2 separate regions of the Homo sapiens genome follow, and region 1 is reported to be linked to region 2. The links are microRNA targets in miRTarBase. Many come from high-throughput screens and were not tested one by one. Region 2 holds a microRNA gene; the other region holds the end of a gene's coding sequence. Distances are from middle to middle.
What was found. Region 2 holds the annotated microRNA hsa-miR-6796-5p (UUGUGGGGUUGGAGAGCUGGCUG, at 1,874-1,896, opposite strand). A microRNA usually pairs through its seed, bases 2 to 8, with sites in the 3' UTR of a target mRNA and lowers its output. Matches are read on the target gene's strand: a 7mer-m8 pairs with bases 2 to 8, a 7mer-A1 pairs with bases 2 to 7 and ends in A, and an 8mer does both.

Region 1: the mRNA of UBL5 is a reported target of hsa-miR-6796-5p. Seed matches in the 3' UTR shown: 7mer-m8 at 731-737.

What each region holds. Positions count from the first base shown.
Region 1 is chr19:9,829,326-9,833,712 of GRCh38, forward strand. UBL5 (ubiquitin like 5) reads left to right here. Exons shown (of 5, transcript NM_001048241.3): 5 at 640-790. The coding sequence ends at 683. Among named protein-coding and RNA genes, the nearest start is that of PIN1-DT, 3.5 kb to the right of the region's middle.
Region 2 is chr19:40,367,360-40,371,746 of GRCh38, reverse strand. MIR6796 (microRNA 6796) reads right to left here and starts at 1,901; the gene lies at 1,840-1,901. It overlaps PLD3 (phospholipase D family member 3), which reads right to left. Exons shown (of 13, transcript NM_012268.4): 6 at 3,868-4,051; 7 at 1,719-1,839; 8 at 1,510-1,637; 9 at 1-74. RefSeq lists a silencer at 3,636-3,801.

The DNA of each region.
Region 1 (4,387 bases), 31 Mb from region 2:
GTGTGCCACCACTCCCTGCTAGTTTTTGTATTTTTAGTAGAGATGAGGTTCCACCATGTATGCCAGGCTAGTCTCAAACTCCTGGCCTCAAGTGATCCTCCCGCCTCGGCCTCCCAAAGTGCTGGGATTATAGCCGTGAGCCACTGTGCCTGGCCTAGAAGGAACAGAAACTTTTTTTTTTTTTTTTGAGATGGAGTTTTGCTCTTGTTGCCCAGGCTGGAGTGCAGTGGTACAATCTTGGCTCACTGCAGCCTCTACCTCCCAGGTTTAAGCGATTTTCCTGTCTCAGCCTTCCAAGTAGCTGGGATTACAGGTGCCCACCACCACACCCAGCTAACTTTTTGTATTTTTAGTAGAGACAGGGTTTCATCGTGTTGGCCAGGCTGGTCTCAAACTCCTGACGTCAAGTGAGCCACCTGCTTCGTCCTCTCAAAGTGCTGGGATTACAGGTGTGAGCCACTGCACCCAGCCAGAAATTCTTTTGTAAAGTTTTGGTTCTCTCCAAATAAAAATGGCCTGGTCCAAAATGGGCTTCCTTAGCCCTGGGCTGAGACCTCAGGCCACCTGACCCGGCTGTGAATGGATGAGAGGGGTGGGGACGGAAGTCAGAGTCAGGATTCCTTAACACCTTTCCTTCAGATGAAATCCACGATGGGATGAACCTGGAGCTTTATTATCAATAGATGAGAATCCTCATCTTCCTGCCCCGCTTTCCTCTCCCATCCTCATCCCCCACACTGGGATAGATGCTTGTTTGTAAAAACTCACCTTAATAAAGACTTAGATGTTGCTTTGTTGTTGTCTCTGTATGACAGCTGTCTAGTGATGGGTGGATCAGTCGCTGTTTGGTCATCACTGCACCATCAGCATGCAGCTGCTAAAATAAGAGCTCTGATCAACTGGATCCATGAGGGCAGAGTAGACCAGCAGGCTGGGAGTCTGTGTGGGAGCCCAGAGAGAGCTCTGGGGTTTGCTGTGGGTGTCTGAAGGTCAAGAGACTCTGGGATTATTGTCACCCTAATAAACCAAAGAACCTCCGGCTAATGACAGTAGATGTAATTGTTAGGAATTCAGATTCTGAAATCACACAGACCATGTGTGGAATGTCAGCTCTGCCACCAAGCAGCTGAGTGACACTAGGCAAAATTTTTTAACCTCTGTAAGCCTTTACTTCCTTATCCACTGGAAATAATTGCGTTTACTTCATGTCTGCTTTCAATCGGCATATTGTGAGGAGGTATAAATGAGTTTAAAGCATGTTTAAACATCCACAGTTCCTGGCATTTTTTTTTTTTCTTTTTTTGAGACAGGATCTTGCTCTGTCACCCAGGCTGGAATGCAGTGGTATGTTCATAGCCCACTGCAGCCCTGAACTGGACTCAACACAGTCCTCCTGCATCAGCCTCCCAAGTAGCTGGGCAGTGTGTACCACCACGCCAGCTAATTTTAAAATTATTATTATTATTTATTTTATTTGAGACAGAGTCTCGCTCTGTCACCCAGGCTGGAGTGCAGTGGCACGATCTCAGCTCACTGCAACCTCTGCCTCCTGGGTTCAAGCAATTCTCCTGCCTCACCTGAGGCAGGAGACTGGGACTACAGGCGTGCCCCATGACACCAGTTAATTTTTGTATTTTTAGTAGAGATGGGGTTTCACCATGTTGGCCAGGCTGGTCTCAAACTGCTGACCTCAAGTGGTCCACCCTCCTCGGCCTCCCAAAGTGCTGGGATTACAGGCGTGAGCCACCGCGTCTGGCATTTTGAAATTTTTTGTACAGACAGGGTCTCCCCTATGTTGCCCAAAATAGTCTTGAACTCCTGACCTCAGGTGATCCTCCAGCCTTGGCCTCCCAAAGTACTGAGATTATAGGCACAAGCCATCATGCCTGGCCCTAGCACTTCTTTTCAAGACAAAACGTGATAGTAGACAGTGAGGCAGTGTGGCACTATAAGTGTGGCTACATGATCCCAGCCTCAAGAGTCAGACCGACTAGATTTGAATTTTGATTGATCCTTAGCAGTGGGATTTCAGCCTCTGCGACCCTCAGTTTCATCCTCTAAAAATGAGCACTACAGTGGCACCCACATCTCAATGAGACCACGCAATTAGAATAGCAGGATGCCTGGCACATAATGTTATTTGCTGTATTCTTCCTCTAGGTGTGAGTAGACAGGAGACCAACTGTCCCTCTGTTCCCCTGGCCACAGTTCTTTGTGTCAACCTTGCTCCTGTCCTGTTTTATTTTTTAAATTAAAAAAATTTTTTTTTTGAGATGGAGTTTCACACTTGTTGCCCAGGCTGGAGTGCAATGGCATGATCTCAGCTCACTGTAAACCCCGCCTCCTGGGTTCATGTGATTTTTTTGCCTCAGCCTCCTGAGTAGCTGGAATTACAGGTGCATGCCACCACACCCAGCTAATTTTTTTTAGTAGAGACAGGGTTTCACCATGTTACCCATGATGGTCTTGATTTCCTGACTTCATGATCCGTTCACCTCAGCTTCCCAAATTGCTGGGATTACAGGTGTCAGCCACTGCGCCCGGCCCTGAATTTCTTATTTCTTATACCACTCCTCCCACCAGTGGTGGGCATTAATACATTTGAGTGACTCTAGAAACTTTCTGGAATAACCTAGAGTTTTTATCATACGGGGATAATTATATGTCCCGTAATATTTATATGACATTCCATAGTTTGCTTTTCTGTGCTTTTTTTTAATTATTATTTTTTATTATTATTTTTTGAGATGGAGTTTTGCTCTTTTTGCCCAGGCTAGAGTGCAATGGTGCAATCTCGGCTCACTGCAACCTCTGCCTCCCGGGTTCAAGCGATTCTCCTGCCTCAGCCTCCCAAGTAGCTGGGACTACAGGCACGAGCCACCACACCTGGCTAATTTTTTGTATTTCCAGCAGAGACAAGGTTTCACCATGTTGGCCAGGCTGGTCTCAAACACCTGAGCTCAAGTGATCCGCCCGCCTCAGCCTCCCAAGGTGCTGGGATTATAGGTGTGAGCCGTTGGGCCAGCCATGATTTAGCAATTTTGAAACTACTTTTGTGTGTGTGGGTGTGGGCACATGGGCCCATGTAATACACACAAACAGGGTTGAACAAATAAGTAAACTTGTAGATAATGAGAGCTGGGTGTCTCACTGTGGAGAAGGAAGTTACAAATAAAACAGGAGATGGGAATGCTTAAAATGAACCTTGTAGGACTGGATTTGGAGGCATCAGTCTGAATTCATGGTTTTCGTTTAACAGATATATTGATACATATAGATGTGTGTATACATATGTATATTTCCTTGCTCTATCCACTTAGAGGGACCAGAAACAGTGACACTCCAGGAACAGTGAGCACCCATCCTGGAACATAAAAACACTAGTGGGAAAACAGGATTGGGGGGAATTTGTGGTTTAGTTAATAGTATTATATTGATATTGGTTTCTTAGTGTTGATAATTATATTATAGCAGGGTTTCTAAGCTTTGGCATTGTTGACTTTTTTGGGTTGGATTTTTTTTTTTTTTTTTTTTTTTTGAGACAGGCTGGAGTGCAGTGGCACGATCTTGGCTCACTGAAAGCTCCACTCCAGGGGTTCAAGCAATTCTCCGCCTCAGCCTCCCGAGTAGCTGGGATTACATGCGCCCGCCACCACACCTAATTTTCGTATTTTTAGTAGAGATGGGTTTTCACCATCTTGGCCAGGCTGGTCTTGAACTCCTGACCTCTTGATCCACCCACCTTGGCCTCCCAAAGTGGTGGGATTACAGGCGTGAGCCACCGCACCCAGCCTTTTATTTTTATTTATTTATTTATTTTTTGAGACAGAGTCTCCCTCTGTCACCCAGGCTAGAGTGCTGTGGCAAGATTATGGCTAATTGCAGCCTCTTAACTCCTAGACTCAAGAGATCCTCCCACCTCAGCCTCCCAAGTAGCTGGGATTACAGGCACGTGCCACCACACCCAGTGAATTATTTTTGTAGAGATAGGGTCTTGCCATGTTGCCCAGGCTGGTCCCCAACTCTGGGCTCAAGCGATCCTCCTGCCTTGGGCTCCCAAAGCCCTGGATTACAGGTGTGAGCCACCACACTCAGCCCTTGGATTGGATAATTCTTTTGGTGGGGGCTGTGCCTTGAAGGATGTTAGCAGCATCCTTGGCATCTAATACTAAATGCCAGTAGCCAGTAGTATCTCCTGTTCCAAAATGTCTGAAGGTGTTGTAACAACCAAAAATGTATCAAGATGTTGCCAAATGTCCCTTGGGAAACAAAATCGCTACTGGTTGAGAATTCTGTTCTATTGTTTATTTAAGACGCTAATATTAGGGAAGTTTGGGTGAAGGGTACATGAAAACCCTACTGTTTTTGTAACTGCCCATGTCTAAAA
Region 2 (4,387 bases):
TAGGCCTCAAAGATCTTGGTCAGGTCTCGAGCCAGGCAGCTGCAGTTGTACATGACCACGCCCAGCTCCTTGACCTGTAGGAGGGCAGTGCTGAGCTCAGCGATAGCGGCCTAGTGCTCACAGATGACAGGGACACTCCCCAGTCTGGTCTCTGTCTTTCCCCCTGTCCCACAGTACCCCCTCCACCCCAGCTCCAATAGCTAAAGTCCTAGAATGATTATCAACTTAAGTTTTGATGAAAATCAGTTATTCCAAAGCTCCAGGTTTCCTGAACGTTTGCAATCTGCTGTTGCTTCTACCCTCCACTGAGCTAGCTTCTACTCATTCTTAGGTCTAGGCTGACATGTTGCCTCCTTCAGGAAGCCTCCCATGACTACCCAGCCTGCACCAGGCATTCCTCTGGGCTCTCACAGTCCCTTGGGATTCCCTCCTCATTCTTTCTGGTGACAAACTGGTCTTCCCATTGGGCTGGGAGGACAGGCACTAGGGATGTCTCAGTCACAGCTATATCTACAGCATCTCCCTGCATAATTGCTGAGATTAAAGGTTAGGGGAACTATCTGTTGAGGAAATGAATTCATGAGTTATTGTCCTGTCTTATCTTCACCTCATTGCCCAAGCTGTTTCCTGTTCCATCTTGCGCTAATTCCTCCCTATCCTTCAGGGATCAGATTAGTTATACCTCCTTTGGGAAACCCTCCAATGCCCCAGGTTGGGGTCTCTGAGCTTCCACAGCCCTCTGTTCCCTCCATCCTGGCCCTGACCCTCTGCCTGTGTCTCCCCAACCCCGGCCCTGACCCCTCTGGGCTGTCACTGTCAGGTGACAGGCCAGTCTGCATTGGGCTGGGAGTTCCATGAGGTCCATCTGTTACCACCATGTTCCCAACATTACCCAGGATAGGGCTGGACTTAGAGCAGGCACACAGAGATGTACAATGAAGATCAAATGGGTGCGCAGGTTCTTGAATGCCATGTAGAGGGGCTGGTAGCTGCAATTGGGGATCAGAGGGAGCCCCAGGCTTCCAGGAGCAGGGGGAGGGCAGTAGAGGGCTCCATTTAGGGATTCTTTGTTTTGTAACAGGGTCTCACTCTGTCACTCAGGCTGGAGTGCAGTGGCATGAATACAACCCACTGTAGCCTCAAACTCCTGGGCTCAAGTGATCCTCCCACCTCAGTCTCCCAAGGAGCTGGGACCAGAGGTGTGTGCCACCACACCGGGCTTATTTTTTTTTTTTTGGTAGAGATGGGGTCTCACTATGTTGCCCAGGCTGGTCTCCAACTCCTGGGCTCAAGCAATCCTCCCACCTTGGCCTCCCAAAGTGTTGAGATTATAGGTGTGAGCCACCGTGCATGGCTTGGATTAGGGAGGCCTGGTAGGAGGCAAGAAGGAAGCCATTACAGAGAATGGGTGGAGAGGACTCTGGATTGAGTGAGGGATGCAGTCGGAGGCTGGGTGCCCTGTGGGGCAGGGAGTGGCCTGGAAGGAAGGTAGACAGGGTGCAGACAGACCTGGGTCAGTGAACGCCAGTCCATGTTGGCACTGCCCAGGTAGAAGTGGGTCTGGTCCACCACCCAGAACTTGGTATGCAGGACGCCATGGGTCAGCTTCTGCATGTCCACCATGCGGACCTGGGCACCTGTGACCAGCAGGGGCAGAGATCAGGGGCCAGGCTGGGTACCCCCAGGCCCAGACCAGCCCCAGTTGGGCCCCAGCTCACCGCTCTGCAGCAGAGCCTGCAGGTCCGCCTGTGGCTGGGGCCCGCTGGGCTTGCTCACAGCGATGCGGACGTTCACGCCCTTTGGTGCCAGGGTCTGCAGCTGCCGGAGGACCTCCTCACCCTGCGGGGAGGGGAGAGCTTCTGAGGGGCTGGACCAGCCAGCTCTCCAACCCCACAAGGTAATGCCCGGTGGAGTTATTTTGAGACATGATTAGGAGTAAACAGACTTTACATTAGCCTGCATAGATTAAAGACTTTACAGATTAAAATATTAAAAGACTTCCTTATCTGTTTTAAACATCTTTATCTGCTTTAATAATTAGTTGCCCTGTGATCCCCCTCCAAGTCCTCCTGACCCCTCCTGCCCCTCCAGGGACTTTCTCAAAATTCAGCATCAAGGCAGGGCCTCCAGGCATCTCCCAGTATGGTGGGGGCGAGGCTCAGGCAGGGGGTCCTGGAAGGTATCGGGTGAGGCACGATGATGCCAACAACAGCAACAGTCAAGGATGCCCTGGAACCTACTGTGTGCCAGGCCCTGTTCTAGGCCTCTTCTCAGCGAACTCACTGAATTCTCACAACCCAGTGAGGCTGGTTTAATTATAATCCCCACAGAGAACTCAGTAGTGGAGTGGGATTTTGTTTTTGTTTTTTTGTTTGTTTGTTTGTTGAGACAGGGACTTGCTATGTTGCCCAGGCTGATCTTCAATCCCTGGGCTCAAGCATTCCGCCTGCCTCAGTCTCCCAAGTAGCTAGTACCTCAGGAGTGCACCACCACATCCAGCTATGGAGCAGGATTTGAACCCAGACCATCTGCCTCCTACATCTGTGTTTTAAACCACTTTAGAGGGAGCCAGCAGGGAGTGGGAGCTCATACGGTTTTTTAACATAAAAAAATTTTTTTTTAGAGACAGGGTTTCACTATGTTGCCCAGGCTAGAGTGCAGTGGCATGATCACAGCTCACTGCAGCCTCCAATTCCTAGGCTCAAGTCATTCTCCTGCTTCAGCCTCCCAAGTAGCTGGGACCACAGGTGTGTACCACTATGCCTGGCTTTGGTTTTTAACTTTTGTAATTATTATTATTACTTTTTCTTTTTCTTTTTTTTGAGACAGGGTCTTGCTATGTTGCCTGGGCTGGAGTGTAGTGGCATGATCACGGCTCGCTGCAGCCTCCAACTCCTGGGCTCAAGCCATCCTCCTCCTTCCATCTCCTGAGTATCTGAGACTGCAGGCATGCACCACAACACCCTCCTAATTTTTTTTTATTTTTAGTAGAGATGGTTGAGGGGAGGTGGGGGGCGGGTCTCACTATGTTGCTCAGGCTAGTCTCGAACTCTTGGGCTCCAGTGATCCTCCTGTCTAGGCCTCCCAAAGTGCTGGGATTACAGGTGTGAATCACCACACTTGGCCATAATTATTTTTTTCAGGCAGTTCTTAAGGAGCCTTGTAATTTTAGTTAAGTTTTAAGACAACTTCTCACAAAAAGAGCCAGTAGGGAGAAGAAAACAGAAGGAACAAATTCATGGTTTTTCAATGGAAGAGGTTATCCATGTAGGCTGTTCCTTTTCAAATTGTGAAGCTTTTATGTTCTTTAAGTTTGTCTGCAGACCATACCAGGATATATAGTAACAGCAGACTCACAAAGGCTGACTCTGTGCCAGGCACTGTGCTAAAATTTGCATGGATTAGTCCATTTCATCCTCACAAGAGCCCTAAGAAGCAGGTGCTATAAATTGGCCCCATTTTACAGATAAAGAAACTGAAGCTGGAGAGAAGAGGTGGCCTGCCTGGGGTCACACAGCTGGGAGGTGGCCCCTGTCTTGAGGCTGGGCTGTTAATTACTCCACTCTTCCCTTTCTTTGTGTGACTGGGTCAGGACAGCTTGTGGGTGAGTGACATCTGCCAGCCTAATAATCCCTTGTAACCAAACCCGCACCCTGACATTCAGAGGCCTACAGATGACCGTGACAAACGCCCCCAGTCCAGAGAGCCACGTGACGACAGCTGCTTGCAAACACCTGTGTCCAATCTGCTGTGTGAGACACACCCCTCTGTCTCCTGGGCTGCAGGAGAAACCCCTTCATTCCCCACAGCCCCCGCTGCCTCCCACCCCCTGCCCCTGCTGCCGGCCAGGGCCAAGGTTGCAGGTACCTGCTGGGCAGAGGGCTCCTGCGTGTGGGTGTCATTGTTGGTGAGGGTCCAGTAGAAGGAGGCGATGTCCAGGCTGCTGTGCGCACCGGCGAGCAGGCCCAGCCAGGCCTGGCTGGTGGAAGGGTTCCCCGTGGAGGCATTGGGGAAGTCCAGGCCCTCAGGAATGCTTTCCACCAGCACTGCTCTGGGGGGTGGGGGATGCTATCAGCCATACGGTGCCGGAGAGCAAGGGCTGGGAGGTGAGTGCTCAGCTGTCCGTCCATGGGTGTGTTGGATAGACTGTATTTTTTTTTTTTTAGAGACAGAGTCTTGCCCTGTCCCCCAGGCTGGAAGCGCAGTGGCGCCATCTCAGCTCACTGCAGCCTCGAACCCCTGGGCTCAAGCGATCCTCCCGCCTCAACCTCTTGAGTAGCTGGGACTACAGGTGTGCACCAGTATGCCTGGTTACTTTTTTTACTTTTAGTAGAGATGGAGCCGCACTACATTGCCCAGGCTGGTCTGGAACTCCTGGGCTCAAGCA